Regions from separate parts of the Homo sapiens genome. Here region 2 is linked to region 1. Evidence: fine-mapped expression QTL. A gene starts in region 1. The other region holds a variant in brackets. All regions are shown on one strand. Distances are between the middles of the regions.

Region 1 (3,008 bases):
CTACCGGTTCAGGCACCTGCAATTTCCGCCTTTCTCCTTCCCCTTCTTCCGGGCTCCCGTCCCGGCTCATCACCCGGCCTGTGGCCCACTCCCACCGCCAGCTGGAACCCTGGGGACTACGACGTCCCTCAAACCTTGCTTCTAGGAGATAAAAAGGTAATGATCGTCATGTGCAGTATGAGGTCTTCACGTGAAAGCTTTATTTGGGTAGGAAAACCTAGCCTACGAGAAACGGGTCCGTGCGGTCACGCCTGACTGCCTGTCTCCGGGTCAAGGCTGCCAGGACCAGCTCCAGCCCTCCGCCCGAGAAGGCTGTCCTTTCCCCTCGGAACTCTGGCTTCCCTAAAGCGGCCGCGCCTCCTTCCAGGCCTCACCTCCTGCCGGCTCCGCCCGGCCCGGCCCACCTCGCCCCCACCTCGGCGCCCACCCATTGTCCCCTCGCGCAGTCACCGAGCGCAGATCCCGCGCTCTCGATTGGAACGCCTCCCCATCACTCAGCCACACTCAGGGGCTGGACGCCTCACTCCCGTTTCCGAGCCATAAAAGGTCTAGGACCGCTTCCCCCGAGCCAGCAGGTAAAGCCGCGGCGGCGGGAGGGAGGCCGGGAGGGGCCGCGCGCCCCGGTCGGCCCAGCCGGGGAAGGGGAGCGGCGGGCGGGGCGGGGGGCAGCGCACCACACACAACCCTCCCTTGCCGTGCGACCGCGCCCTGCCCCCGCCCCGGGGCCCCCGCCCCGCAAGTCCTGATCACAATGCCGGAGCCGCCGAGCCACCCTTGTCATCCTGCCCGGGGACGGCCCTGGGGCAGTTACTACCGCGAAGCACGGAGGGTGGGGCGGGCCGGGCCTCGGGGAGGGGTGGGGGGATGTGAAAGGTCCCGGATGTTGCTGAACGGGAGCCCCTTCCAGAGGGAGTGACTGGGGCAAGCGCAGACGGGCTGAGCGAAAGCTAAGGTGGGGGTAGGGAGAGAACGCCTTCCCGCCGGCTGAGAGGAAGAGTGGGCCGGCAGAGGCTGCAGGGGAGAGGGAGAGAGAGGGCGTTGGGGACCCAAAGGGAAGGCGAGGAGTGGGGGATTTGCGTTGGGGAGGAAAAGGAAAAAAGCAGCCTCCTGCCCTAGGTGCACTCGGGACAAGCGTAGAGGAGCTGGAAGCCGAGCGGGGTGGGAGGAGTGGCGGCTGCGGGCGAGGACGCGCGCGCCTCCGCTCGCCCTCCAGCGCGGGCGGGCAGGACGAGCGCCGGGGAGCGGCGGTTACGCGGGGCCCCGATCGCTGTGGGCACCAATCAACGGTTGCCATAGCAGCGTTTGACGTCATCGTGCGTGTGGTGCCCCTGCTGCCGGGGCTGGTGATTGGAGGAAACCCCGTGTCTGCGGAGCGGCTGTAGCCTGTGAGCAGCGAGATCCAGGGACAGAGTCTCAGCCTCGCCGCTGCTGCCGCCGCCGCCGCCCAGAGACTGCTGAGCCCGTCCGTCCGCCGCCACCACCCACTCCGGACACAGGTGAGGAACCCGGCCGCCGCCGCGCCTCGCTTCCTGTCCCAGGCCAGCCTTCCGAACGCGTGGGAGCCGTCCTCGCTCCGTCCCCTCATCCCCACTCGCCCCGCGGTGGCGGCGCCGGGCTGAGGCGGAGTCTCCTCAGCGGACACGGGCGGCGGCTCCTCTTCCGCTGGGCTCGGGAGGGCGGCTAGCGGCCGCCTCCGGCTCCTTGCTTCCGCATCGACGCCCCGGCGCCGATCGGTGCTCGCTCCCCCGTCCTGCCCCCGGGGGTGGGTAGGGCGCCCACACGCGAGATCCCTGGGGATCTCCCTGTCGCCGGCTCCCGAAGGTGGACGAGGCATGGCCGGGGCGCCGCCGGCCGCGATCCATCCCCACCCTTGTCTCTGCGGGCTTCCACCCCCTCCCTCGCCGCCCTTCTCGCTTCCGCCCGAGATAATGACTCGGCGGCGGCGGCGGCGGGCATCGCAGTGGCGCAGGTGAGGCCGCCCCCTCCCCTCTCCCTCGGCCGCCCCCTCCTTTCCCTCCCCCTCGCGCAGCCTCCGCGCTGGGCGCTGCGGCGGCGGGACCCGGCCCTCCCCCACCCCGGGAGGCGGTGGCGCGGCGGGGAGGGGCCGGGGGCCTCGGGGACCCAAGCGCGAGGGAAAGGCCTGGCCGAGAGCGGGCCGGAGCCCAGGCCTGGCGCGGCGGCGCCCGCCAGGTAGACCGGGGCGAGGCTGCGCGCCGGCGGGAGGGGAGTCCACTGCGGGGTGAGGTTTTGGGGTGGGGCTCGCCTGGGACCTAGAGCTGAATTTCCTGGGCTCCGCGGTGGGAGGAAGGACTTGAATTTTCCTGGTGGGGGTGGGGGATGGGTCTGACTTTTTTTGCTCCTTGTGAACGGGCGGGGGAGGTGTGGACGGGGGCTGCAAGTCCAGGTCGGGGTAGAGAACAGGGTGGTGAGCCCGCAGTCGGCTCCCGTGCTTGATGGACTAGAACTGGAGGGTCCCTGCGCTCGGTTTGGGGACGCATATCCTGCTTTGGGGGCGGGTGAGCCTGAGCATAGCCGCTGGTGGCCCGCTCGGCTGGGTGTGGCTCTCGTCCCCTCCCCCACCTGCAGCTGTCGGTCCCTTAGAGACGCTGTACACGGTCACCGGCGCTGATCGGTGGCGGGGAAGGCGCTGGGTGGGAGAGCGGGGTGTGTCCGCGGCGGGGCTGGTAGTGGTTCCGCTTCTGCGGGCTGCTGTGGCGTCTCTGCCCCGGGGTCGGGCGGCTTCGCTCCCCATCTCTCCCCCCCCCCCACGGCTTGGGCGGGGGCGCGGGCTGCTCCTCCCTCTGGCTCCGGTCGGGGGGAGGAATTAACACTCTGCAGTAGGTTGGGCTCCCTGACACAGATCCGCCATGACAAAGGAGGAGAGTCGGGGACTTGAGCCGTGGCTCCGACTTGGGCGGAGCCTGGAGGGGGGTGGTTGCGATACGCGGACCGGAGAATTTGCACTTTAAAGTCCGGGTCTGCCCGTTTTCGTTTCACAGTAACCGACG
Region 2 (2,500 bases), 27 kb after region 1:
AGTGGTGCAACCTCGGCTCACTGCAGCCTCTATCTCTCGGGCTCAAGCAGTTCTCCTGCCTCAGCTGGGATTACAGGCGCCCGTCACCACGCCTGGCTAATTTTTGTATTTTTAGTAGAGACAGGGTTTCACCATGTTGACGAGGCTCACCTCAAGTGATCCTGCCACCCTAGCCTCCCAGAGTGCTGGGATTACTGGCATGAGCCACTGTGCCCGGCCTCAGGCCAGTATTTTTAAATATCGGTTAATAATTGCAGGAAACATCATTTCAGGTTGACTTTTCTCACCTTTAACCTCTTTATATAGCACAGTGCAATCTGGCCCTACTGCCACTTCATCTGGGTTATCTGTAGCTTGAGTTGTAAAAAAAAAAAAAAAAAAAATTGGGGGAAGAAGTTGGGTTAAAACTGTTCACCTACCCAGCATTGGAACATAATGGGTAAACAAAAAGTTGGAGTTACCATTTAAAAGCATTTTTCAAATTTATATTTTATATATAAGTAGGTGCTATATAAACTAATACTTTTTTTTTGTAAGAATGGATTTGGAATTTAGCTCAGCTGAAAATTGACTTCACCTTGATTCTCAGAGTGTACTTGAACTTTAAAGGAAGTGGGGTAGTGAGAATGGGTGGTTGGGGTTTTTTTGCTTTAATGTTTACCTAATTCTACTACTAGAATTATTTTTCTCCCCCTTAACTGGAAAGAAAAAAATTACACATTTATTGAGACTTCTTCCCATCCCCAACACAATGATCTAATCTTTTTGCTTTAAAATCAGTTAAAGAGTGTAATTTTTAAAATCCTAATCAAATGACTCAGATTGTAATAGTAGTTTTAGACAGAATTTTATAGGATGATGTTTTAATTTTATCTGTTGTCTGGGATGATCTGTAATCGTGTATCTTACTAGCCGAAAATGACTTCAATGAGATTAAAGGTCTGCTCTTTAAAATCTGTAAGTCTCCTACCACTGTCTTTAGGAAAAATAAAACTTTTGAACGGTTTTTTTATCTGTTGTGAGGTTTGCTTGAATTGTGTTGTTATAAATGAAGTTTATTTTGTTCCTCCTTCTCTGGCATGGACTCCTTAAGTGTCTTACATTATTGGTTTCTGCTTTAGTCATTTCTCCAGAGTCCCAAAAGGTTCATCCCGTATGTTCTTTCTATTTTCATGTCATGACCACATGAAACTTCAGATGGAAAGCTTGCCAGCTCATTAGAAAATGTTCCTAAATGTGAACGGTCATGCCCCACATTCATGAAGTCAGCATGTAAATAGATAACATTGTCAGGGACCAATGTTCAATTTTATTGTCCTCAAATAATAAACTGAACACTAACTTCAAACTTAAA[A/G]TATTGCTGCCCAAAGCATTCTGCTTTAAACCACAAATTCATGTGCCAGCTGCATTCACAATTGTATTGACAGTGACTGGGTGTTTAAGTTTTATAACTTAGGCTATAGTTTGTTCTTTAAGAAATGCAAGTTCTTTCAGTTTTGTAAATGTTTTATTCTCACTATGTCTGTTTCTTTTCTTCTTAAGTCTCTTTTGGAAAAGTTCTTGATCCCCAATGCTTCACAAGCAGAGAGCAAAGTCTTCTATTTGAAAATGAAAGGAGATTACTACCGTTACTTGGCTGAGGTTGCCGCTGGTGATGACAAGAAAGGTATGCTGTTTTTAAACCTGTTGGTTGAACTTGTATAAGATAACATAGTGAGGAAGAGTCTCTGAAGCGTACATAATGTCTTGTTTTGAATTGCTTAGAGTGCCGAATAAGGAGTAGCAGTGCTCTTTGTGTTCTGAGAATACACATCTACTGCCTCATACTGCTATTCTAAAATAAATGCTTTCTGAAAAGCCAATATTGTGTACAGGGATGTTTTTTCAAGATTTTAAGAAAAGTGACCAGCCTGAGCAACATCTCTCTCTACAAAAAATATTTTGAAAATTAGCTGGGCATGGTGGTGCAAGCCTTTGGTCCCAGCTAATCTGGAGGCTGAGGTGGGAGGATTGCTTGGGTCTGGGATGTCAAAACTCGTCAATTTTTTAAAAACATAACAATAATGAGATTATAAAGTTGTTTTATCTTGACATTGATCAATGGCTAGTGTGTACCAGGAGAAAGCTCCCTTTAAAAAAAAAAAAGGACCTTGTTCAATTAACAAATATTAAGCTGTTACAGGTTAGTATTTCAAAGGATATGTGAGATATTAAAGGTTTGGTTTGAGGGGTGAAGATATAATGCACACTTTATCTCAGTACGTTTTGGTGTGTCTTATCCAGGGATTGTCGATCAGTCACAACAAGCATACCAAGAAGCTTTTGAAATCAGCAAAAAGGAAATGCAACCAACACATCCTATCAGACTGGGTCTGGCCCTTAACTTCTCTGTGTTCTATTATGAGATTCTGAACTCCCCAGAGAAAGCCTGCTCTCTTGCAAAGACAGTATGTATTTTACCTGTTACGTAGAAATTTAGCAGTCTTTATTATTTGAGCAC

Which allele goes with the higher level. Alleles are on the strand shown, and positions count from the first base shown. SD is a standard deviation of normalised expression in the study named.
As copies of A replace G in region 2, the expression in whole blood of the gene that starts at base 1,405 in region 1 goes up (small effect, 0.23 SD a copy in GTEx).

What was found.
Region 2: its variant is fine-mapped to the expression of YWHAZ in whole blood (TOPMed, PIP above 0.99). The same link has a PIP of 0.9 or more in T cells, anterior cingulate cortex, blood mononuclear cells, monocytes, non-classical monocytes and regulatory T cells.

Annotation. Positions count from the first base shown.
Region 1 is chr8:100,950,417-100,953,424 of GRCh38, reverse strand. It overlaps YWHAZ (tyrosine 3-monooxygenase/tryptophan 5-monooxygenase activation protein zeta), which reads left to right and starts at 1,405. Exons shown (of 6, transcript NM_145690.3): 1 at 1,405-1,496. RefSeq lists enhancers at 1-50, 61-170, 450-1,308, 2,461-2,540, 2,167-3,008 and silencers at 311-990, 1,011-1,270, 1,501-2,270, 2,661-2,880.
Region 2 is chr8:100,924,082-100,926,581 of GRCh38, reverse strand. It overlaps YWHAZ (tyrosine 3-monooxygenase/tryptophan 5-monooxygenase activation protein zeta), which reads left to right. Exons shown (of 6, transcript NM_145690.3): 3 at 1,543-1,666; 4 at 2,284-2,447. Among named protein-coding and RNA genes, the nearest start is that of YWHAZ, 27 kb to the left of the region's middle. The variant A/G (reference allele first, on the strand shown) is at 1,355.